4 linked regions of the Homo sapiens genome follow. The protein of the gene in region 2 purifies or fractionates together with the protein of the main gene of each other region. This does not show direct contact. Each region holds a gene or a part of one and is shown on either strand. Other genes may lie near its edges.

Region 1 (7,034 bases), on a different chromosome or scaffold from region 2:
GAAAAGAGGGGAGAGAGGAGGAATGGAGAGGGAAAGCAGGGAGAAAATGGGTTGCATGAGCACCCAGATGGTTTTCTGTTCTATTGATCAGCATGTGGAGTTAACACCTTGATTGTCAAATTGTCTAGGAATATTTTAATAATGTTGGTACAGATATAGGGAAGTTTATAGGAAATATTGGTCTCTTTTATATTAATGGCTTTGTAGATGGAGGAGGCACAGGATGACAGCTGAAAAGAGGTGCATTCAGATTCATTTAAATATGCCTTGGCACATTTATTTTGAATACCACTTATGTACTCTGGGCCCATTGTAAACAAACGGCCCAGAGTTAAGTGGAGATACACAATTAAATAACCACGCAAATGAGCTCAGAATTGCACACGGAGATAACTGCTGCAAAGACAGTAAACACAGTTGTGAAGCCTCATATAACAAAGGGGCCTGAGTCACTAATGGTTCTCCTGAGGGAAAGACAATTGAGCCCATAACTGAAGGGAGAGCAGGAATTAACACTGCAAAAAGTAGGAAAGAACTCACTAGGAGAAAGGCACCTGGTGGGCAGAGGGTACTTTAAGTATATGCAGTTCCTGAGGTTTTTTTTGCCTCAGCAGTAAATGGACACTCTACTAGGCTAAGTAAATCTTCATCATTTCTTCTGCCTGTGTGTGTGTGTTCTGGTCTCTTCTTCCCTCACTGAAAGGTTATGTGCTATTTACTTCTTGAGGCTGTCAGCATGCTTGCCTCTCATCACACACACACACACACACACACACACACACACACACACACACACACCCCTCTTCTGTTGTTTCTAACCAGTACGGCCTGAGAAACCAGAGAAATCAATGTGTGTGGACTGGTATATGGGCTATGCTACCCTGAATTTGTGACATGTGTCTTAACTTCTCAGAAGCTTACTCCTATGTTGTCTATCACATTTTGGCTAAGAGGCCTCCGGAAAAATAAAGTTCATACTCAGAACTGCCCAAGCTAAAAGAAAAGCTATAAATAAACTCACCTGCTTCTGATTAACCACTGCCCACCTTTTCTTGTTTACTGCCCTGCCTCCTCCAAATGAATCTTTCCATCTTATGATAGCTCCTGAAACCTCTAAGGTTACATTGAACATGTAGTCAACAAATCCAATAGCCTCTTTCCAGTGCTTCCCCATCTGACCCATTTGTATTATGGGACACCGCTGACCACTCCTTTGAAACCCTCTCATCCTTTGGCTCCGAAAGTGATATTCTCGATTCTTGTCGTTCCTCTATGACCACTGCTCAGTCTCCTTTGCTAATTTATCCTCGAGCCCTCTTCTCCCTGGGCAATTGTACTCATTCCCAAGGATTTAGCTATTACAAATACACACACACACACACACACACACACACACACACACACAAAGAAAAGCAAAAAAAGAAAAAATTTCCAACTCTACTTCTTACCTCTCCTGAGCTCTGAACTTTATTTCCTCTGCCTATCAGAAATTTTCACCTCAATAACTTGAACATCCTTCAAAAACACTATGTTCAAAATGAACTCCTTCATATCACGAACCCTCCCCCTCCCCAAAACAAAGATACACAGATATATACAAATAAACACACCTATTTCCCTAATGTGTTTTACTGAATTCCTGAATTGTAAACCTTGAAATCATCCTAAATATATTCTGATTTCTCATTTCCCACAGACAATTGATGGGCTATTTTTATCAATTTTATCTCAATACAGTTCTTACATCCATTCCCATTACCTTTTGGGACTCCATTAACATTCACGTGCACTACGGAAATGGCTTCCTAAATGATACCCATCACTGTATCCTCAGGGTCGAGGAAAAGCTTAGCAGACACTATGCCTGCCATAAGTAATTTATTGAATAAATGCTTACCATGCTATACTCTATACTGAAGCCAGTTATCTTTTTAAAACAGTCTCCTGATTTATAGTGTTAAGTGAAAAAAGCAAAACACAGACTACATCTAAAGTATGATTCTAACAACAACATAATTTTAAAAATTAAAAAGATTACCCCCTAAAACTTTTTTTAAAAAGTATGATAAAAAAGACAAATATACTGTGTCTGCATACAACATTTTATGAAAGAAGACAACAAAATATTAACCGGTAACCTTTGAGGAGTGATAACAGAGGTTTAGGAAAGCAGAAAAAAACTTTTACTTTTCACTTCATATTATTCTCCATCATTTGAAATTTTCAGATTGTTTTTAAGAAGTACAATATACATGGCCAAGCAAAACAAAACAATCGGCCTACAAGGAATCCTGGTTCAGAGGATAAAATATTTCCAATCTAATCTCAAAACACCAGATGTTCCAATCTTATCTTCTTCCAATCCTTACCACTTGCTCTCAGTATACTCACTCTAGCAGACCAGTATCTTCTTAGTTCCCCCAAACAACCATTGGTGTTTCATTCCTAATATGCTTTTAACTCTGACTGGAAATGTCCTTCTTTTCCCTACTTTGCCTAGAAAACTGCCTGTAAAAATCTAGCTTAAATGTAAGTCCTCTGTAAAAGCTTCCCCTACTGACTCCTTCATTTGAGCTCCCTGTGGGACTTAACATATGCTTCCACAGCAGTTTGTGTAGTGATTTATTAGTCATGTTTCTGCTAAAAAATCTTGCCTCTAGGTGACAACAAGTCCTTGCTCACAATATATCCTCAAATATCTAATGTATGAATATCCACCAGTCTTTCCATTATTCTATATACATCCAGTAGCTTCGAGGCTGCTGCTAAAAACCATTTCATGCTCTTATGAGACGTTTGCTACCACAGCATTCAATGATCTCAGCAACAAACTTATAACCTAGACAATAATGCAATCAGATTTTACTGCAGTGACACACCTAACAGCTACTCTGTAGCATGTAAAAGCCTCAACAGGACGATTAACCAGCAAAGACTAATCCACCCACAAATTACCTAGATGCTCAGACCAATCCACCAGTTGTTATACTTTAGCACATGTTCAGCTTTAAGAATCTTGACAATCCTTCATCGAGATGATGCTCGATTCTTTATTCCTTTAATAAAAAGCTTTTTTTTAATCCCTTCTTCCTCCTTTTTCTTCCTCAAATTCACACCACCTAATAACACCTTCCTCTACTGATTCCACCTTTGATTGTTCCTTAGGATTCTGCAATGTGGTGCTTTTGTGTGAATTAGATTTAGTAGCCCTAGTGCACAAACTATACGTAAATTTTTAGACTAAATACCCTGCACCTTAAATATCATTGAGTTTATAAAACTCCACTTATTGAGAGTTAACAAATATTTACTCACAGAAATGATGTTATACAATATTATACTGAGGTTAGATCTCCAGGAAGCTGACAAAAACCTTCTTAACCTACAATATCCTTTAACACTAACTAGCAAAAAGCCTAAATTTTAAATTAGCAGGACTGACAAAATTTTAGGTAAAACTATTCCTGTTTCTTACATCACGGCTAGAATTGAAGACTTGGGTCTTTTAGTTCTTACCAGGCAGGTGAATAGTGAGGCCCCTACCCTAAGCCTATCGTGGGGAAGGAACTTGTGGAGATAAACACTAGGGTAAAAGAAAACATCTCTATCTTATATATAGGAGATTGACAGGACTTATAGCCTGGAGAAATCTAGCAGCCTTCTCAAGTCCAAGTAGATGTCTCTGAAAATGTTCAGGAGATAAAAAGCTTCCTCGGTCAAAAAATATTTTATTTTCCCCCACCCTTACTCAGTCTTGATAAAGGACAACAAAGTTGCTTCAGCTAAAGTTGGCTTCATCTTCATTTAAGTGAAATACCCAGCTGGGCTATGCTGAGTATTTCATCTCAGGTACTGATGAATAGGGACCTGGTTTCCCTATATGAGAAAGAACACTTGAAATTCACACACCACAAGTCCCAAGTAAGTGGTGATGGTACCTTTTTTTTTTTTTTTCTTTAAGACAGAGTCTCGCTGTGTTGCCCAGGCTGGAGTGCAATGGCGCGATCTTGGCTCACTGCAACTTCTGCCTCCTGGGTTGAAGAAATTCTCCCACCTCAGCCTCCCGAGTAACTGGGACTACAGGCGTATGCCACCACACCCGGCTAATTTTTGTATTTTTAGTAGAGACGGCATTTCACCATGTTGGCCAGACTGCTATCGAACTCCTGACCTCAAGTGACCCACCCGTCTCAGCCTCCCAAAGTGCTGGGATTACAGGCGTGAGCCACCACGCCCGGCCGGTATCCCTTTTTAATGTGCACCCTTTCTCTTATTTGCTTTTCTTTTTAGTTGGAAGAGGAACCAAAGAAAGTGAGGAGAAAACTGCCATCACTAGCCTTGTGTTTTTTTCTCACTCCTACCTCCAAAATACCACTTGCCACTAAACACCCTGCCTTCAACTCACTTGAGAAACTCAGTAATGCAGAGAACGTACAAAGCAGTAGTAGGTTAAAAAAGAAAGAGTAAAGGAGGGGAAAGTCCAGTTATCGGCATTAGAGAAAGATGACTTGGAGGAAGTCTTGCTGAGAAGTCATGGAGCATGAGGGACAGGTGAATACAGGTATACCTTAATTGTGATTCACTTTACTGTGCTTCAAAGATAATGTGTCTTTCACAAATTGAAGGTCTGTGGCAACACTGCGTCAGGCAAGTTTATTGGTGCCCTTTTTCCAGCAGCACATGCTCACTTCATGTCTGTGTGTCACATTTTGGTAATTCTCACAATATTTCATATCCTTTCATTATTATTATATGTGTTACGGTGATCTATGATCAGTGATTTTTGATGTTACTACTTTAATTGTTTTGGAGGTACCACAAACCATGCTGTATAAGATGGCAAACTTGATTGATAAATATGGTGTCGTTCTAACTGCTCCACTGGCTAGCTGTTCTTCCTATCTCTGTCCCTCTCCTTAGGCCTCCCTATTTCCTGAGACACAATGATATTTAAATTAGACCAATTAAGAACTCTACAACGGCCTCTAAGTGTTCAAGTGAAAGGAAGAGTTGAGCATCTCTCACTTTAAATCAAAACCAAGAAATGACTAACCTTAGTGAGGAAGTCATGTTGAAAGCCAAGACAGACCAGAAGCTAGGCTTCTTGTGCCAAACATTAGCTAAGTTGTGAACACAAATAAAAAGTTCTTGAGAAAATTGTTACTCCAGTGAATAAACAAATGATAAGAAAGCAAGACAGCCTATTGCTGATATACACAAAGTCTGAGTTTTATGGACAGAAGTTCAAACCAGCCACATTCCCTAAGCCAAAGACTAATCCAGAGCAAGGCCCTAAGTCTCTGCAATTCTATGAAGGCCGAGAGAGGTGAGGAAGTTTTAGAAGAAAAGTTGAAAGCTAGCAGAGGGTGGTTCATGAGTTTATGGAAAGACGTTGTCTCCATAGCGGAAAAGCACAAGGTGAAGCAGCAAATGTTGATGGAGAAGCTGCAACAAGTTATCCAAAAGATCTAACTTAGATAACGGCTGAAAGTAGCTACACTACACAACAGATTTTCAGTACGTACAGCCTTCCATTGGAATAATATTCCATATCAGATTTTCACTGCTAGGGAGAAGTAAATGCCTAGCTTCAAAGGGCAGGCTGATTATCTTGTTAGAGAATGCAGCTGGTGACATGAAGTTGCAGCCAATGCTCACTAACCATTCTGAAAATCCTAGGGCCCTTCAGAATGATGCTAAATCTACTCTGCCTGTGCTCTATAAAAGGAACAACAAAGCCTGAAAGACAGCACATCTGTTTACAGTATAGTATACTAAATAAGACTTCTACTAAGATCTACTGCTCAGAAAAGTTTCCTTTTAAAATATTACTGTTCATTGACAATGGACCTAGTCATTCAAGAGGTCCATTAGATACACAAGGAGATTAATATTGTTTCCATGCCTGCTAACACAATATCCATTCTGCAGCTAATAGATCAACTAGATCAAGAACTTTCAACTTTCAAGTCATATTATTTAAGAAACAAATTTCCTGGCTGGACCCGGTGGCTCACACCTGTAATCCCAGCACTTTGGGAGGCCGAGGCAGGCAGATCACAAGGTCAGGAGCTCGAGACCAGTCTGGCCAACATAGTGAAACCCCATCTCTACTGAAAATACAAAAATTAGCTGGGTGTGGTGGCATGTGCCTGTAATCCCAGCCACCTGGGAGGCTGAGGCAGGAGAATTGCTTGAACCAGGGTGTCAGAGGTTGCAGTGAGCCAAGATCGTACGACTGCACTCGAGCCTGGTAACAGAGCTAGACTCCATCTCAAAAAAAAAAAAAAAAAAAAGAAATAAATTCCCTAAGGCTATAGCTGCCATAGACTGTGATTCCTCTGATGGATATGGGCAAACTAAATTCAAAACCTTCTGGAAAGGATACACATTCTAGAAGCTGTTAAGAACGTCTGTGATTCATGGGAGGAGGTCAAAATATCAACATTAACAAGAGTTTGGAATCCAGTCCTCATGGATGACTCTGAGGGATTCAAGACTTCTGTGGTTATAGGAGGAGCAGGATTGAAATAATAAACAACAAAAGACATCAGTGGAGGAAGTCGCTGCAGATGTGGAGGAAATAGCAAGAGAACTACAATCGGATGTAGAGCCTGAAGATGTGACTGAATTGCTGCAATCTCATGATAAAACTTGAACAGATGAGAAGTTGCTTCTTATAGATGAACAAAGAAAGTGGTTTGTTGAGATGAAATCTACTTCTGGTGAAGATGCTGTGAACATTATTGAAATGACAACAAAGGATTTAGAATACTACATAAACTCAGTTGATACGGCAGCACCAGGGTTTGAGAGAACTGAATGTAATTTTGAAAGAAGTTCTACTGTGAGTAAAATGCTATCATACATCGCATGTTACAACAAAATATTTCCTAGAAGGAAGAGCCAATCAATGAGGCAAACTTCACTGTTGTCCTAAGAAACTGCCAAGCCACCCCAATGTTCTGCAACCACCACCCTGATCAGTCAGCAGCCACCAAGACAGAGACAAGATCTTCCATTAACAAAAATAT
Region 2 (7,197 bases):
GTGGAAGAGGACAGGCTGCATGTCCAGGCTCTCAGCAGCCTGAATCAATCTCTTTTGAACAAATTGGAGTCTCTGGCAGAGGTATCAACTCATCAGTAAGGCAGACATCAGTGTCCACACACCCTGTTCCTGATGGGGATTGGGAGCCTCTCCTGCCATGTCTGTGCCTTCTCCATGGCCCCAGCTTCCATAGGGTGGTCCCTGGTGCTGGTTCCAGGAGCATCAACCCCTTCCTATGTGGATGGAGCCTGGTGGTGGCATCAGCATCCCACCCTTGCTGATCCCACGGTAGCCAACCTTCTCCTTGTTTGGTTTCTTTAATTAATTGATTAATTAATTTATTTTTGAGACAGTCACTTTTTCACCCAGGCTGGAGTGCAGTGGTGTTGTCTTGGCTCACTGCAACCTCTGCCTCCCCGGTTCAAGTGATTATCTTGCCTCAGCCTCCCCAGTCGTTGGATTACTCGTGCCCACCACCACACCTGGCTATCCTTGTTTGGTTTCCTAGCTTGTCCTTGACCTGGGTTCCTGTGTCGGTTTCCTGTTGCTGCTGCAGAAAATTATCACAAACATGGCAGCAGGAGAGAACACACTGACCCCTTCCACTTCTGGGGACAGAAATTGGATCCAGTTCTCCCTGTGCTGAAATCAAGGCATCTGCAGGGCTGCGTTCCCTCTGGAGACTCAGCAAATCAGTTCTCTTGACTTCTCCAGCCCTTAGAGGCCACCTGCATTCTGTGACTAGTGGCCTTCCTCCACCTTCAAAGCCCACAGTGGCTGATAGCGTCTCCCTCCCACTACACTGCTCTAATCCCCACTCCCCTCTTCCTCCACCTCTCACGCGGACCCTTGTGATTACACTGAGCCCAGCAGGACAGTCCAGGCTGTCTCCCCATCTCAAGGTCAACTCATCAACAACCTGAGCTCCACCTTCCCCTTCAGTCCCCTGCCCTATAACATAAATAGTCACAGGCTCCAGGGTTTACAATGTAGCCATCATTGGCGACAGTTATTCTTCCCACCACAGCACCCATTTCCCCTGTATTCAATCTCCCTTGACCCCAAATACAGTTGGGGCCTGGGTGATGGGACCCTGATGGACACCCCCACCAGAAGCTCTGGGATTCAGGAGGTGGGACAGTGAGAAGCCCAGACAGAAAGCCTCTGACCTGTGACCATGATCACCAGGGGGTTGCTGGGTGCCGACCACCCAGTGAGGGAGTGTGGGCGTGAACCCCGACATCTGTAGGTCCCTGCATGTGCTGGGGTCACAGGGCCCATGATGAAGCTCTCCTGGAATATTCTGCCGTGGAAGATGGGAACGTGGCTTCTGTCTTCTTTGTACAGCATGAAATTGTTAAACCCACGACGATAGTGACACTGAAGAGCCACGTGTCCTCCTCGAGGCACCACAGTGCTGGGCCGGGCAGACAGGAAGGGTTTGTCCTGACCACCTGGGGGAGAAGGAGGCACTGCCTTAGAGAGGAGGATGTGGAGCCACCCCTCCCTCCCTGTGCTCAGAAGATTCTCCCATTTCCGCTTTCTAAGGCTCCTACCACACCTGGGTGCCCAGGGCTACAGGAAGGACCCACCCCACATAGACATGGCGTCTCCCTACAACAAGTGTCAGCTGAGAACTTTGAGCAAGTGCTGAATAAGTGACTCTTACTAGATTTTAATACTGCAAAATTACTCACATAAAACAACACAAAGTAGACACGGCATGGAGGGCATGTCCTATGTGAATGGAATATCAGCCAATTCATGAACTGAGCCCCCTCAGAGGATTTGGAATGTCAGGGCCATGGCTGTGGTTTCCCCCCTCTTCTGGTAGAAAGACCGCAGCCACACTGCAGCCCCTACCGTCACGGAAACGCTGGAGGGTGTCAGTTATACCTTTGTCCTCAGAGGACCTGCTGTTCCTAGCACTGCTTCCCTCTCTTTCTCTGCTGCTGACACCACTTCCTCCCTGCACACCCCAGCTTGGAGCACCCCAGTCTCACCCCAGTCTTCACAGAGCTTGACTCAGGAAAGGGAAAGAAAGGCCAGGGAGGGCGAGGTCAGAAATGTGGGCCGAGTATCCAAGGGTCCCCTCTTCCTAGTTTATGAGAGACTCCCCGACAGGACTTCCCTCCTGTTTCAGAAAAATCCTCTTATGTGGGGAGATGACACCCTAAGGTTTGGGGACGGACTCACCCATGAGTGGCCAGGCCCCCTGCAGCAAGAAGAACCCTGGAAAGAAAGATCATGATAGACGATCCAACTGCAGGCAAACCAGGGCACCCTGCTGCCCCCACTGCACTGTGTGTCTTGGCAGCCAGGCCCTTGCTGGGCTGAAGGTAAACTTAGCCTCCCTGCTACCTGCTGCCAAGAACAGGGCTCTCAGCTGTGGAGAGACCCAGGCTCCAGGCCCAGATCAACACTTCCTGGCCCAGATCTCCACTCCAGGCCCATATCTCCACTCCAGGCCCCTATCTCCACTCCAGGCCCATATCTCCACTCCAGGCCCATATCTCCACATCAGACCCATATCTCCACTCCAGGCCCAGATCTCCCCTCTAGGCCCATATCTCCACTCCAGGCCCATATCTCCACTCCAGGCCCATATCTCCACATCAGACCCATATCTCCACTCCAGGCCCATATCTCCACTCCAGGCCCAGATCTCCACCTGCAGGCCCATATCTCCACTCCAGGCCCATATCTCCACTCCAGGCCCGTATCTCCACTCCAGGCCCATATCTCCACACCCAGGCCCATATCTCCCCTCCAGGCCCATATCTCCACTCCAGGCCCATATTTACACCTCCAGGCCCATATCTCCACACCCAGGCCCATATCTCCACTCCAGGCCCATATCTCCACTCCAGGCCCATATCTTTACCTCTAGGCCGAGATCTCCATCCCCACTCTCCCTCCCTCTATTCCCTTCCAGGACTCACCAACGCACGCCATGCTGACGACCGTGAGCGACATGGTGCTGCCGGTGCAGACAGGAGGCCGCGCCCCAGCTCAGCTCAGCAGCGCACAGGATGTTATTTGGCGCCCTGCCCATGCAGTTTACATGTTGACCACATCATGGGAGGGTGACGTACGCAGGCTCTTTCTACCTTGCATGAGGCCCAGTGGGTGCTCGCTCAAGAGCGGAACATGGCTTCCTGGAAATTGTTGTGACTACAATTGCCACCTTGCATCCTTCACTATGACCAGACTCAAAAGACGTCTCAGATCCAACCTCTCACACATGAGGTGATTGAATTCTGTGCTTACATTAAAGACTTTTGATGTATTTTTGTTTTTATCTGAGATTCAAACTTTTCTTCATGTGTAATGTGCAAAATATCTAAGAGGTATTATTAACATTATCAGAGTAATTGTGACAAAAAGCCATTCTAATTTTCCTGATGAGTTTCTAGTACTAAACCTGAGGCACGAGAATTGCTTGAACCTGGGAGGCGGAGGCTGCAGTGAGCTGAGCTCAAGCCACTGAACTCCAGCTTGGGTGACAGAGGAAGAGTCTGTCTCAAGAAAGAAAAAAAAAAGCAAACTAAATAACCTATAATAACAAATCAGAGAACTCAGGTTACCAAATTTTAAGGGGTTCTATAAGTTTATATGAAATGCAGCATCCTCATGAGAGGGGATACAGAGAACCACTGGGCAGAAAACTGTGTCTAAAATACATCTGTGGATACACAGTCCCTTTATAGTTGACAAAGGCTGCCATGTAGTTTAAGGTGGAATAGAATATTTTCTCAACAAATAACACAGGACCATAGGGTTACACGTAGGAAAAAATAAATCTAAACTTATCCTCACACTATAAAGACACTTCTTATTTTTTATCTTGTTGTTGTAAACTTTTTATGCTTTATTTTTAAGATTGACAAATAAAAATTATATACTGTGGTCCTTCACTATTCCTGGGTGATTGGTTCCAGGATCCCCATTCAGATACCAAAATCTGCAGATGCTCAAGCCCCTTGCATGAAATGGCATAGCGAAGCTGGGCACCGTGGCTCACGCCTGTAATCCCAGCACTTTGGGAGGCTGAGTTGGGTAGATCACGAGGTCAGGAGTTCAAGACCAGCTGGTCCAACATTCTGAAACCCCGTCTCTACTAAAAATACACACACAAAAAAATTTATCTGTGCATGGTGGCACGTGCCTGTAATCCTAGGGGAGGCTACTGGGGAGGCTGAGGGAAGACAATCGCTTGAACCTGGGAGGCGGAGGTTGCAGTGAGCTGAGATCATGCCACTGCACTCCAGCCTGGGTGAGAGAGTGAGACTGTCTCAAAAAAAAAAAAAAAATAGCATAGCAATTGCATAGAACCCATGCACATCCTCCTGTATACATGAAATCATCCCTTGATTACTTATAATTCCTGACACAGCCTACACGCCACTCAATTTGTGTCGATTCAACATAGTTTTTTGCTTCTTGAAACTTCGGGGATTTTTTTCTGAAAATATTTTTGATTTATTGTTGGTTCAATAAACACCTGTAAACCCCACAGATATGGAGGACCGACTGTATATTTATATTATGAAAGATGATATGTTGATATGTGTCCCCGTGGAGATGAGACTAACAAGGCCTATGACTCTACAAATGTTTCATCGTGGAATGACTCTGCCAGCTTTCCAGGTCTGCAGAGAGTAAGAATATCACTTGTTCATGTGATTCACGATCCTTGGAGCCTCCTATGTGCTGTATCTTTGGATGGAAATTGGAGTCTCAGAGACAAATCAGGCTCCATTCTGCTTCCAGAAGCTCAGAGTCCAGGGCTGAGAACCCAATGGAGAACAGATGGGGTTATGTGGACATGGTAATGATAACACCGGAAGCCTTAGGCAAGAAAAGAGTCTCGTTACCGAAACCATGAGGGCAGACATGTTTATTTGAAGGCGGGAAAACTACATTGAAATTATTTAAAAAATTTATAAGTTTTACTGCTGGCAGAAGGCTGAAAGATAGTCTGAAGGGAGGTGGAACAGCACGTGTCTAAGTGCTGTGTTAAGAGGCAGCCTCTTGTATGTTTGGAATTGTGAGTTCCTCAGTGTGATTGCAGCCTCAGGTAGACTAGGAAGTAAGCCAGTTAGGTTGGAGAGGTGGGCAGGGGTCAAGTGAAATGGAGAATTGTGGGCTAAGCAAAGGAGTGTGTTTTCTCTCCAGCAGGCAGTGGGGACCTTAGACATTTGTAAGCAAGAGAGAGGCATGTTCAGATTCGTGGTGTGAGGAAGAGCGATGCCCTAAGATGAAGACTGATGCCTTCAGATTCCAGCTGCTGGTACATGGGAGCTGGCAACCCGGTTTTGAGACAGGGCTGTTGTCTCCCTAGAAGATCCCCTCAAGGCCTGACTGTGGTGCTCGTGGACAGAAGACAACTTTGGATCTGGGCTCAGCATTTGGAAGTTCTATGTACATGCTGGTATCTGTTGGGGGTGTCTTGGGCCTCTCAGAAGGGCGAGTGATTTTTCTCTGTGTGAAAACACAGTGATCCAATTATGCGTATGACACCTCCTGATGGTCTTGTTCATCAGAATCCTGGAGAGAGGGAAATGCTGAGTGAGGGAGGGTGCTCACATTTTTCAGGACTCTTTGGGAATAAGACTAGCCACGAGGCTGGGCGGAGGAGCACCTACCTCGCTGTTCACTGTTCTGTTCCCTGCAGGCTCTTGGTCCATTACAGCAGCATCTGTAGAAGACGGAAGTCAACAAAAGAGCTCGGAGGGCACTTCTGGGTCCTCATTTCATAAGCAGATACCAACAAACAGGGGGAGGCCATAGGTGCCTGAGGTCCCTCAGTTGCCAACAGCAGACTCAGACATTCTATCTCTCTGAGTTCAAGGACCCATCCCATGAATAGCTCTGAGGTCCCATCCCATTGATTCTATCTCCCACTTTCTGCCTGTCATGGAACCTTCTCCTGGATGTGAGTGGCTGCAGGGGACGTGAGGATACAGTTCAGAATCAGGCAATGGTCTGTGAGCTGAAGGCAGGGGAAGGGAATCTGGTGCTCTCTCTAGAAAGTCCTGCCTCTGTGGCTCCTGTCTTGGGCCAGGGACCATCCTGCTGGTGAGGAACACACATCCGCGTGCTCCCATCCTGCTTCCCCACATGGCCCTGAGCTCTCTGGCCTCTGCTTCGTGAGACTTACTTTTTTTGTCGGAGCACCAGCGATGAAGGAGAAAGAAGAGGAGGATGGTGAAAGGGATTTTGACCACTGAGGTCCCAATCAGAACATGTAGGTGTCTGGGGTTACCTGGAAGAAGAGGAGACACCAATAAGAAGCTAATCATAGCAGTTCCTCTTTATGAATTGTCTCGCATTTCTTGATTGGCAGGTAACCACATACAACGTCTCTTTAGGACAAGCACCCAAATGGCGGGAGACCTAGCTTTCCCCTGCTTTCTCAATTATAGCTCTCATAGTAACCATAGAACGTGCTGAGGATACAACTACTTTAGTTGAGATGTTTGACCCTTTCAAACCTCACATTGAAATTTCACCCCCATTGTGGGAGGTTGGGCCTCTTCAGAGGTGTTTGGGTCATGGAGGTGGATCCATCATGAACAGATCAATGCTGTCCCAAGGAGACGGGGTTAGCAAGTTCCCCCTCTGTTAGTTCCTGGAGAGCTGGTTGTTAAAAAGAGCTTGGAAGCTCCATCGCTCCCTCTCCCCCTTACTCTCTCTCTTGCCGTGTGATCTCTGCGGTCTCTGCACAGACAGACCCTCCTTCCCTTCTGCCAGAGTGGGAGCAGCCTGAGGCCGTCACGAGAAATAGATTCTGGTGCCATGCTTCCAGTACAGCCTGCAGAACTGTGAGGCAAACCAATCTCTTTTCTTTAGAAGTTACCCAGGCTCAAGTGTTCCTTTAGAGCAACAAAAATGGACTAAGATAGCAACATCCTGAGATCAGGAGGAATGTCTCAGAACAGCCTGGGCTGTCTTCCTGTTCTTCCTGGAGGAGGACGTCATGCAGTGCTTTAGCTGAGTGCTTCCTGTGGCTCCAGGGTACAAAACCCAGGCTGGGCTGCTTTCTGGCTTCCCGCAGCTACACTGCAAATGGGGTGACTCCATATGTCCCGAGCAGCTTTTCTGAGCCTTGAGGGACTGGCTCACATTGAAATGCAGGCTTCTGTTGTCACTCGCTGCTTATCTGTTAGTAATGAACCTGCCTATGTAACGTAT
Region 3 (7,098 bases), on a different chromosome or scaffold from region 2:
AAAGTTATGTGCATTTTGAAACTTCGCAGTTAAACGACAACAAAAAAGCTCAGAGTATCTCTTTATATATGCCAATGTCTGTAGTTAATGCTCCCTTTACTTCTTTTTTCTTGGTGAGGGCAATTGTTTTCTACGTTTACAAGAGATAGATGTTATTACCACTATAAGTTATTGCATGCTCTATGGTCTGGTTTTACAATTAAGTTGAACTTATGAGGGAAAAACTAAATCTATTCGGATTTGGATTAGTTAATTTAGAGCCAGGATTATATATTTGACTACTTGGTACAATGGTGGGTATGCTGTCACAGCCCAGAATATTTAACCACAATAAATGTGCTAGTGAACTGGTTTAGAAGTTACCTAGATTGATGGATCTCATTTGCTAGCCTATATTATTCAACACCAATGGAAATTAGAATTCATTTGTAAAGGGATCTCATTTACTTAACTTCAATCTTAAAAAACTGTCTTTTTTTAGTTAGTTATATGTTTTTTCTCAAGTTTGTTTTTCTTTTTTAAACACAATATTCCTTTGAGGGGGAGTTAAAAGATGTAACTTTCTCTGGCAGCAGGCTGAATAGAAAACCCACTATCATCAATTTTCTTTCCAATAAAAGATGATTCTCAGAGTGGGAGTGATAATGCTCCCCAGTCTAACCTCAGTGTTGATGAGATTTTCAAATGCTACTAAATGAAGCAGAGTCTACATTAGGATGGAGCAAATTTTAATTGGTGACAAAAATTAGACCATTATATGTGATGATAGCCAAACAAGGAAAAAAGAGAAGTTTAAAATCAAACAAAAGGATTATTTAAGGGCATGTTTCCATAAAGTGGAAGATTGTAGCCCTTTTCAAAATATGTCAAGGGAAAAAGAAGCAGTCCCTGTACTGCTCCACTCCCAATTGCATGTACCTGAGGAGCTCCAGAACCACTTGGAAAAGGATTAAGCAGCAACTCAAATGGTTGCCTCATTCAGTTTTTCTCAAACTTTTAAGAAAACGGTTGACACAATATTTTAAGAATCTGCTGAAAATAATGTCTTCTCTCTATAAAAGTACATGAACACAAAATCTTCATATAATTTCAGAAGGCTTAAGATTCTTTGAAGCCCATCGGTGGATCCAGAGGACTCAGATTAAGAATGATATGGGTCTCAGGGGCATGATTTATGCTTTAAATCATGCAGTCCAGAACACTGGCCAAGCAAAATCAACTAGTAGTACAACTGCAATGGAATTGTTACCAATATTAACCACTGCATAGCTATAGTTTTCTGGATTTCAAAGTGCTTTCTCACAGATGAACAATTTGATGTATCAGCCCAGATGGCCAGCTAGGTAGATTAGGTGAGAGAAAGGGAGTAACGTTGAGTACCTATTCTGTGATGTGATGCTTATTAATGTCTGATATCCTACTATAACTGTTTTCAATAAATAAAAATGTTCCCTCAAAAAATATAAATACCCTTCACTGGTGAACATTGAGTACTTATTAGAGCCCTTCTAATAAAAAACAAAATACTTAGATTTTGAAGGCATTAAGGCAGACACCTAGATCTACATTTCTCAAAGTTTTTCTGGGGGTGGTGGGGGGTTAGCGGGGTGTCACTAAGACTATTTCAGGAAAGTACATGAGGTTCTCCCTTTGCCAATTTATATATTACATGAGTCTAGATTTTCTTCATATACTTCAACCAAAACAACATATTGCAACAGATTGGATGCAGAAGCAGATATGAGAATCCAGCTGTCTTCTATTAAACCAGCCATTAGGGAGATTTATAAAAGTGCAAAAACAAAGCCACTCTTCTTAACTTTTTGTGTTTGTTTTGGAAAGCAGAGTTATGTAAACTTGTAATGCATGTTTTATTTTAAATGAATTTAAAATAAATTCTTTTTTTTCTATTTTAATTTCTAAATGCTAAATATCAATAGCTATGACCCACATAAATAAAAGTTCTTTGGTGTCCTCACCAAATTGTAAGTGTTATGGGGGGTCCAGATACCCAAAAGTTTGATAACCTGGCAAGTCTGAGAAGACACATCTGGGTGGATGAGCAAGTGTAGGGGTGGGAGGGGTGTGACAGGAACTGATGAGGGCACTGTGTGTCTCGTGTTCGGGACAGGATTCCTTGAATGGTACTAAAAGTGGACAGGGGAGGATGCAGTCCAGTCTACTCCTTCACTCTGCTTGTGGCCTGTTCTTAACACAGCTCTCATGGAAGCGCAATTTAGAGAAAGCAATCTTAAGAAACAAGAAAGTAGAGTTTAGAATCCCAAAATTAGGAAAGACAACTGCAATTTGTTTAGTGAAAAACACTGAAGTTGCTTCTTTCCAACAAGAATGGAAAACATTTTTGGAGTGCTGGTTGCTTTTTTTACCAGATGATATAAGATTTGTTAATTATTAGATTTTTGTAATACTTATTAATACATTTTTCTCTTATCTTTTGGAATAGCATTTCCTGGTTTTAAAAAAAAAAACTTAAAAGGGGGCAAATCGGCAGGAGACTGAGGAAAAGCCTAAATGTATTCCCCAGAAAGTATGTTTTAAATTTTAACATTTACTTACTGAGAGGTGAGGCCAGCTGAACTTCCTGGGTCCAGTGGGGACTTGAGGAACTTTCCTGTCTTACAAGAGGATTGTAAAATGCACCAATCAGCGCTCTGTAAAATGCACCAATCAGCACTCTGTAAAACGCACCAATCAGCAGGATTCCAAAAGTAGCCAATCGCAGGGAGGATTGAAAGAGGGGCACTCCGATAGGACAGAAATGGAACATGGGAGGGGACCACAAGGGAATAAAAGCTGGCCACCACCAGCCAGCACCTGGGGTTCTCTTCCATGCTGTGGAAGCTGTCCTTTTGCTCTTCGCAATAAACCTTGCTACCGCTCACTCTTTGAGTCCGTGCCATCTTTAAGAGCTGTTAACAGTCACCGGGAAGGTCTGCAGCTTCATTCTTGAAGTCAGGGAGACCACGAACCCCCTGGCAGGCACCAACTCCGACACATTACTAGGCGCTAAGCATTGTGCTAGAGAGTTTGCTGTGGTATAGGGGCAACAATCTTTACTTTGGAATGAGAAAAACTGTTTCAAACAACTTACTTGCCATGAGTAATTTAATTTCTCTCTTTTCTATAAAACATGGGTAATATTTATCTCACAAGGATGTTTGGGATTAAAAAGTGACAACCTATGTCAATAGGACAGCATGATGCAGTGTAGGTCTTCAATGAATAGCATGGAGAGTGCTTGCAAAGGGCAACGATAAAATCTAATATAAATAAGACGTTGTAGACAAACGCTTTAAAAACACAGGGGGTAAGGTCTGATGTGCCAGCGTCACTACAGACGTACTTAGAAAAGTGTTCTGGGGATCTAAGTAAAGGAGGACTCCCATTTGCTGGGAGTGAGAAAAGAGCTTTAGGGAAACTGCAGCGTGATGGGCGAATCCTCCTTTCAATATATCTACCCTGAAAGTCGGCTCCAGCCCTGCCGAACATCCTGGCCCAGCTGCACCCGACCCAGCGTGAGATGTCAAATGACCTCTTGGCGCTTCCACGCCAGACTGGAGGGGCTCTGCACAAGCCTTGCCCGACTCATTCCGGGCACCTTGAGCGTGGGAGTCCACACTGCCCCTTGACCGACCAGCTGCCAGGTTGGCCGCACTAACTTGAGCCCACCCCCACTCGAAGCTCCGCGCCGACAGCAAGTGGAGACTTGGGGGTACCGGATAGAGGAAGGAACTCCCAAGTTGTCAGCTTCAGACCATCCACGCCTCCCCCAACACGGAACCACCTTCAGCCTCCCAGCTGGTATCCCACCCCCCCTCCCCCCACCCGCTGGGCCAGAGCCCAGCCCTCGGACAGCGACCGTGCTCCTCCACACACCCCGCGCTCCAGCCCCTGGGCATCCAGCAGCCGGCGTTCGCACGCTCTGTCATCGATTGGCGCTGCCTTGCTCCTTGGGCTCCCGTCGCGTGGAAATCGGCCCGAAACTTGGAAAGTCCAGCGGAGCGCGGGGAGGGAACCGAGGCAGGCGGGCCAGGGGATTGCCGATCGCACGGATGGGCGCGCGCTCAGTCTGGCGAGTGGCGGCGCCGGCTAGCCCGAGCGGCGCGAGGCCGGAGTCCGGCGTCCGCCACCCTCTCGTCTCGCGCTGGCGCGCGAGCTCCTTGCCCTTGCCCCCAGGAGGGCCGCCCCGCGTGGGGCTCTCGCACCGCCCGGGGTGGGAGCAGGCGAGCCGGAGGGAGGAGGGAGGAGGGAGCGCGCGCGGGCGGCGGCGGCCCCTCCCTTCCCCCTCCCGCAGCCGCGGAGAGCGCAGGGAGCAGCCGGTGGCTCGGCGGCGGCGGCGGCGGCGGCGGCGGCGTCGGCGTCGTCTACCTCCAGCTTCTCCTCCCTCCTCCTCCGTCTCCTCCTCTCTCTCTCCATCTGCTGTGGTTATGGCCTGTCGCTGGAGCACAAAAGAGTCTCCGCGGTGGAGGTCTGCGTTGCTCTTGCTTTTCCTCGCTGGGGTGTACGGTAAGTGTCCGCGTCCCCGCGCCCCGCTGACCGAACAAAGCTGAGGCGACCCGGGCCCCGAGGCCTCCAGGACGGGGGTTCCCCTGGAGACTCCCGCGGAGACCCTGGCTACCGGCGGGACAAAGACCGGTGAGGGGGTGGATGTGGCGGAACGGGTGTCCCCACACGGAGATGCTTTTCTCCACTCGTCCACCTCCAGACCCTCGGGTGGTGGAGAGGGGCTGGGGGGCCCGGCCGGGAGGGCCCCGGCGGAGCGAGGGGGTGGCGGGCGGACTTCCCGACCTGGGTTCGAGGGCCCCCGCGGCCAGTTGCTCCAGGACCCGTAGCCTGGCACAATCCACACACAAAGATGCTTGACTGTGAGAAAGCAGAGGAGCTCGCCCCCGCCGCTGCCGGGACGGTCCTTCCCCCCGCCCCCTCAACCCGGGGTTAGGAAGTTCTCTCACCGGCGAGATTCCCACCGCGCCAGCCCTTGTCCTACTCGATTCCCTGAAAAGGCTTCCCGCTGACTTCTCCCCACTCCACCTCGGGGGCAAGGGCTCTGCCGAATCCGGGCGTGCAGGGTCCTGTTGGTTCCCCGGGAGCAGCACGCGGGAGAAGGCCAGAAAATAGTTTCCAGCCCCACCTCAGTCTCTCCTGTTAGGGTGTACACATCTGTCCTGACTCCTAGTTCAATTGTAATTTCATCCATCCTCGTCCGCCGCTGTGGTCACTGTTACTTTATTCCAGTCGATGGATCGGGTTAGAGATAACTCCTTTCGGGTTAAGAGAAGGCTGAAGACTGTGCGGACAGCTTTATATTGCGTTGGGGTCTGAGCAAGAGCTGAATGGAATTAATTGCAAAGAACATCTATCTCTTAAGATAATTAAGTTACACTTCTGACTTCACCGTTCTTAGTTCATCAGTTAAACACACTGAATAGGTATTTCAGAGAGCTCAGTTTTAACCTTTCCTTTTTGGAGTGTTGCTCTGATTTCTCCAGAAAAAGAATTAGAAGATATCATTACTTTGGTAAATTTTACTTATAAAAAGTCTAATTCATTTGCCACAAACATTGATTTGACTAGTATAATGGTGGTGGTGGTGAGGTTTAGTCAACAGCCAATTTGTCAGCAAGTGTTATCTCTTTTGAAGGCATTTATCTACGGAATTGAATGTGATGGTGGCTTTTGAAACCTGGCAAGTGACGCTAAATGAAGAATTAATGAACGTAATTGGGCATTTACTGACAGCCAAGAAATTCTTTTTGGTACAATTAAGGATGTGTTGCTCCCGTACCTGATTAGTAGTATTTTTGTTTGTTTTGGTGAGGAGAGTAGTTTGGTCCATTTTTTATGTAGGGGTAATTGCCAGAGGTGTGCTTGTGTGGGACCAAAAACCCAGTACACGACTTTTGATTGTTAGCTGCATCAAGTGGCTGTAATCCCTGCTTGCCTGATGACTTGTGGGTTTGGGTCTACACCAGAGATCAATAAGCTATTACGTTGTTTCTTCTGCCCTGAAGGTGGGTATAGTTCTGCTCTAGGTTTGGTGTAATGGCCCAGGAGAGAGAAGAAATTGAGAGGTATCTTTAATTTAGGGTGATTAGGATTGTCCAGCTTTGTCCTCTACTATAATAAGCATTGAATTTCTGTGATGTCCGATCAGAATAGATAAATAAATGGGCTCTTCTTTCATTAAAACCTGTGTCATCAGTGTTTGAACTAGAAGTCTTTTGCCTCGAGGGATAAGAGGCTGTGAACCCCTCAATTTGTTTTGGTGCATTCTTTAGTACTTGTACACAAAGTGACTTTCTGGTAGGTGCCTATCAAAGCTTTTATCTTTTTGGAATTTGTGTTCAGTGAGGAACACAAATTGTTAGTAAGCAAAGACTGAAACTCCTTTTTCCAACAGTGTGGGCCGCAGATTATAAAACCAGCAGGTGATTATGCCAAAGGTTGATGTCTCAAGCCACAGCAGGTTTCAAAGTGTAAAAAAAAAAAGGAGGTAGTGAACCAGGCAGAACATTAAACTATATCAGCAGAGATTAAAGGGAACCCTTCACCCTGGAACTGAGAAATCCTCTTTATGGCTGCATGTTTTTTGTCCTCTTCTGTCTCTAACCATATGTGGGTTTATAATAGTGAAAAAGGGCTGTAACAATAGTATGGGGTGGATGTGGTTCTATAACAATAGTGGGAATTGAGTAACTTAGAATATATAGTAGTTGTAATGGGTGGTGGATGCATCCTGAGAAATAGCTGTCGCCTTGAGCCTGTTAGAACAGATACTAGCTGTAATTTATGAAACTGTCCTCTATACAGTAAAAAGTGTGTGTGTGTTTTAAAAGGCTTCAAAAATAATTAGCTCTGTTAATGAAACTGAATATTCACAATCACTGTTAACAAAGAAAAGCAGGTTGATTGGCCAATATTTAGGGAACTCCAATATTAATTCTTCACAGAGTGACTCTTAAATGAAATGACTCTAAGGTGTGCTTCAGATTTTTGAAACATTTCACATACATAAAAAAATTTTTTGTTGTTTATTTTGGTGCTACTTTCCAGATGACGATTTTATGGGCTCTGATA
Region 4 (4,297 bases), on a different chromosome or scaffold from region 2:
GAGATTTAACTAGACGATATCTGAGGTCCCTTTTGTGTGGGAAATTGAGTATTAAATGTCACACTGAATTTTAAATAGTACTTGCCATTGATAAATTTTAAAAAGGTAATATCACTTGATATGGGCTCCCTATTATTTTTAGTGGATTTTTTTTTTGGATACAGATTTGAAACACTCTTGTCTTCGAAATTATACATTTTTATCTTAATGAGCTCTCTGTTGATATTCTTTTGAAAGGTGAGGGCTTTTCAGTATAAATGAAGTCCAGCAAACTGAGGGTAATGATTCTCTAACACTTCTGAAAAATGTTGTTCAAGATAGAAATATATCTATACTGTCATCTTTGAAAGCAGTATATGTGTGAAAGATGTTTATGTGTGTGAGCAGTTATTGTGCTCACTGATCGCATTGAGTCCATGGAAAAAGAGCTATCATAATGGGCTAGAAATTCTATAGGTGTAGGATTTATAGCCTTCTGAAAGCCTCTTTCAGTAATTGACCACAATATTGTGACAGAATCTACCCTACTCAATAAAGGAATAAATAAGCTTTGAATGCCAAGTCTGACCATGTTGCCAAAGAAAAGCTACCATGTCTGATGGGCAAGTTGTACAAAATGCTGACATTCTCTTTTGGTGCTCATATCATCTTAAGAGCTAAATTCTTCTCCCTATAATAGAGTTTACCAAAATGGCCAAGTCACTGCTCTTACTTGCCAGGCTATGAATTCAGTTAGATTACAAAAATTAATCTGTTCCCCTGTTGCCTTACAGTATATCTTCTCTTTTAAATAACTAATATTTTCTTTTTCTTGTTTTTTCAATCCTGGCAGGCATCAAACAGTGCCTCCTACATCCAGGACGCCTTTCAGCTACTCTTACCTGTGCTAGAGATCTCTCTCATTGAGAACAAGATTGAATCACACAGACATGAGCTGCAGGGCCAGAAACCTTTGTTAGAACATTGAAGAATGGAGACGTTTTGACCTGGGACTTGTGACGGCCAAGGAATGCCACCTTATTCTGGCTACTCCTGCAGAAATGAAGGAGTGGGGTTATTTTAGTATATAAAAATTCAGGCAGGAGAGATGGTTTAAAGAGGAAGATTGTTGCCTTCAGTGTTTGATTGAAGTATTCAGGTTCTCACAGTATTCTTTCCAGTTGTTGTAATTCATAAATTATTTGAAAAGAAACTTTTGTAGAAAGTCCAAGAATAATAACTCTAGATAAAGATTAGTGGGACACTCAGGCAAAAATGTTGGTCTTTCTTTGACATGTTGCAAAATGTTATCAATTTTGTCATGGATATAATTTGCAGCCCATGGATATAACTGGTTGATAAGCCAGAGAAAAATAATTTAGTGTTCTAAAATTCATGGCATGTGTGGTTTATTAATGCCATGTACTTTCTCCTTTCTGGAATAAAATCTATGGCTTTAAGAAAACTGAGCATATGTAAACTCTGTGATGATTACCCTTTATCACATGAATTCTTGGAAATAGAAAGTTTCATCTGCTTTTTTAAATTCTTAGTAGATATTTGGCATTGAGGAGAAACTTGTAGACTATTATAGCCATGTGAATTAACTGTAGCAAAGTGCCCTTTTTCTTCAAATTGCTCCCCCTCCCCAGGATGACACACTTCATGTCATAGCTGAACCCTACTCTACTGGATTCAAGGCCAGTAAATGCAATTTAGAGAAGCAGTTTTATGTTTGCAGATATTCTGAGTCTCTTCAGGATGTGTTTCGTGTCTACCATATATGCAGGATAAATTCTTTAACAGCAAACTCCAAAGGAATGTTGAAGCTGTTTTAGCAATGAGGATTTTTTTGTTTGAGTGTTGAAGTGGGCCATAGTCCTTTAGAAATGATGTTCATTTATGATAGGATTTAACTTCTAAGGCATAGTTTATTTTTTCCTCTTTCCTTTTTGTTTGTTTTAATGTATTCTTTAGCATGTTTTTGATATAACTTTTATCCTCCAGATCTTAAGCTTTCTTTTGCTCTCTTCAGCAATTTAAGAGACTATTAAGCTGTCGTCTTCCTAAAAGCTATTTTGGTATCCACTCTTTTTAAAAAAATTCTCCAACTTTGTGGTTTTTTAATGATTAAGGTAATTTGTTAGCTCTGCCCCTCATCTTCTAAAACCTTTGTAATAAAATGTATTAATCATGTTATTTGATCCTTTCATTTACTTTTGTAAACACGAGCCCTAATATCTTACTTAGACCAAAAAAAAAAAAAAAAAATAGCAAAGCAAAGCCATAACATAGATTAGTATAAAGACTGTTTCTACGTAATCTTCTTTGGGGCAGGAGTCAGTTAGTAAGCAAGGAAGAGAAATAAATTTGGTTTAAAAAGGTATACCAACAGCACTACAATGTTACTCTGCCTATATTCTGTCTTAATATGATCAGAAAGTTTTTGAATATTCCTTTTTAAAGACAAATTTCACCCTTTCCAGCTTGAATATTTCTGAAGTTTCAGAAAAACAGTTGCCTTCTGGTTACAAAGGCTGGTGTCACCAGTTCTGAATTGTTGCCTCAAGCTTGGTTGATGTGTCTGAACCTGTATCCCTTGAGGGCAAAGTTTAGAAACTGGTCACTCTGCCTACTGTCTGTTCAGCCTCTTGTACAATGGCAGTTTGGCAGCTTTAAATCCTTAACCTAGAAATGTATTTAAGGTTTTTCTTTCAAGAAATGGGGTATACATATGAAGGAGAGAGTAACAACTCTTTTTATACACCTATTCAGATTTCAGCCCTGAATTTGGCAAATTTTAGATTAGGTCTCACATAAGGTAAATATGACTCACTAACTCTTTTTTTCTCATCTTCCCCACCCCCCCATATATATTTATTTATTTTAATGGAGTTAGGGACCACTAGTGAAATGATGAAAGGCCCAATTCTGAGTAACAATTGTCTACTCTTCACATAAAATATACTGAAAAAGAATTAAGATTCCTTGATCCAGTAGACATAGAGAAACATAAACATTCATGACAGATGAGTAGGTAAATTCAGGGATCACTTTGGAACTTGCTGGATTATGGTGATGGTTTTTGGATAGTATGTGCTTCATTATTTTATTTGGGGTAGTTACAGTGTTTTAGTTTTTTGTTAACAGCTACACTTTTGGTACTATTTTCCTTTTAAATTTTTGGTGTCTAAGATTTACCACTAATTACTAATATATGCCTTTCCAATTCACTTAAAACCTTAATAAGTGAAATGTTCAGGTATTGCTAGGGTAAATGTGTCTTTTCCTACTATTGAGATTTTAAAAGGCTGTGATTAAGAGAGACTTTATTAATTTGATCTGAAAGAAGTAGAAACCTCTATGAAACAATTTTTATTTTCCTTTGCATAATACCTTAGAAATGTGTTAAGGACAAGCTATATTTTCCTTACTTGCTTTTGATAGTTTTTTTTTTTTTTTTTAAGCATAGATATCCAGGTTGGCAGGCCTCTGAAATGTGAAATTGTAATTTTTATAGATGGCATTACTATGAATCTGAAATCAGTGCTAGGTGTACAAATGTGAATTTTTCAATCCTGTAATCAAAGAACAAGATCTTGTGGGTTCCTACTGCTGAAAAAGGATGCTTTCTTTTGTACTTGTTTTTAGTGAAAGACCTTTTTGAGGGAGAGCTATTTTATAGGTAGTTGCTATTGATATCTCCATTTGAGAAATAGACATTTTTCTGTATTTCTAGAGGTGTTCTGAATTTTAAACCTGAATTCTTCAGTTTAGAAAACCCAGAATAAAATTATACCCACAGTGGGCACTCAACAAGTGTGATATTTCACAAATGTCAGAGACTGAGCTGTTTTATTATCTCTTTGTGTGTGTGTGTGTGTGTGTGTGTGTGTGTGATGGAGTTTCACTCTTGTTGCCCAGGCTGGAGTGCAGTGGCGTGATCTCGGCTCACCGCAACCTCTGCCTCCTGGGTTCAAGTGATTGTCCTGCCTCAGCCTCCCGAGTAGCTGGGATTACAGGTGTGTGCCACCACACCTGGCTAATTTTGTATTTTTAGTAGAGACAGGGTTTTTCCATGTTGGTCAGGCTGGTCTGGAACTTCTGACCTCAGATGATGCCACCTGCCTCGGCCTCCCAAAGTGCTGGGATTACAGGCGTGAGCCACTGTGCCTGGCCCTTTTATTATTTCTTAACAACACATGATATCTCTTTTCATAAAAGACTTAAAAAGCATTTGAGAAATGAGAAAGTTCTAAAAATAATAAGCCTCTTAGTTAACATGTCATAAAGGCCTCTGGCAACTGTATGAAGAGAA

Evidence for each region.
Region 1: the proteins of KIR3DL2 (region 2) and FBXO38 purify together in Homo sapiens (affinity purification with mass spectrometry; 2 studies listed by BioGRID and IntAct, with this or other methods). This does not show direct contact.
Region 3: the proteins of KIR3DL2 (region 2) and LRP12 purify together in Homo sapiens (affinity purification with mass spectrometry; 2 studies listed by BioGRID and IntAct, with this or other methods). This does not show direct contact.
Region 4: the proteins of KIR3DL2 (region 2) and FAM114A2 purify together in Homo sapiens (affinity purification with mass spectrometry; 2 studies listed by BioGRID and IntAct, with this or other methods). This does not show direct contact.

Annotation. Positions count from the first base shown.
Region 1 is NC_000005.10:148,386,953-148,393,986, reverse strand, and holds part of FBXO38 (F-box only protein 38), read right to left. Parts: intron 1-7,034. UniProt on the Homo sapiens protein: Substrate recognition component of a SCF (SKP1-CUL1-F-box protein) E3 ubiquitin-protein ligase complex which mediates the ubiquitination and subsequent proteasomal degradation of PDCD1/PD-1, thereby regulating T-cells-mediated immunity.
Region 2 is NC_000019.10:54,846,255-54,853,451, reverse strand, and holds the start of KIR3DL2 (killer cell immunoglobulin-like receptor 3DL2 isoform 1 precursor), read right to left. Parts: upstream 3,010-7,197; 5' UTR 2,977-3,009; coding exon 2,943-2,976; intron 2,233-2,942; coding exon 2,197-2,232; intron 1,455-2,196; coding exon 1,170-1,454; intron 1-1,169. Other genes in the region: KIR2DS4 (killer cell immunoglobulin-like receptor 2DS4 isoform 2 precursor), read right to left, coding at 6,242-6,268. UniProt on the Homo sapiens protein: Receptor on natural killer (NK) cells and T cells for MHC class I molecules. Upon binding of peptide-free HLA-F open conformer, negatively regulates NK and T cell effector functions. Acts as a receptor on astrocytes for HLA-F.
Region 3 is NC_000008.11:104,586,248-104,593,345, reverse strand, and holds the start of LRP12 (low-density lipoprotein receptor-related protein 12 isoform a precursor), read left to right. Parts: upstream 1-4,087; 5' UTR 4,088-4,448; coding exon 4,449-4,527; intron 4,528-7,098. UniProt on the Homo sapiens protein: Probable receptor, which may be involved in the internalization of lipophilic molecules and/or signal transduction. May act as a tumor suppressor.
Region 4 is NC_000005.10:153,989,646-153,993,942, reverse strand, and holds the end of FAM114A2 (protein FAM114A2), read left to right. Parts: intron 1-832; coding exon 833-967; 3' UTR 968-3,795; downstream 3,796-4,297.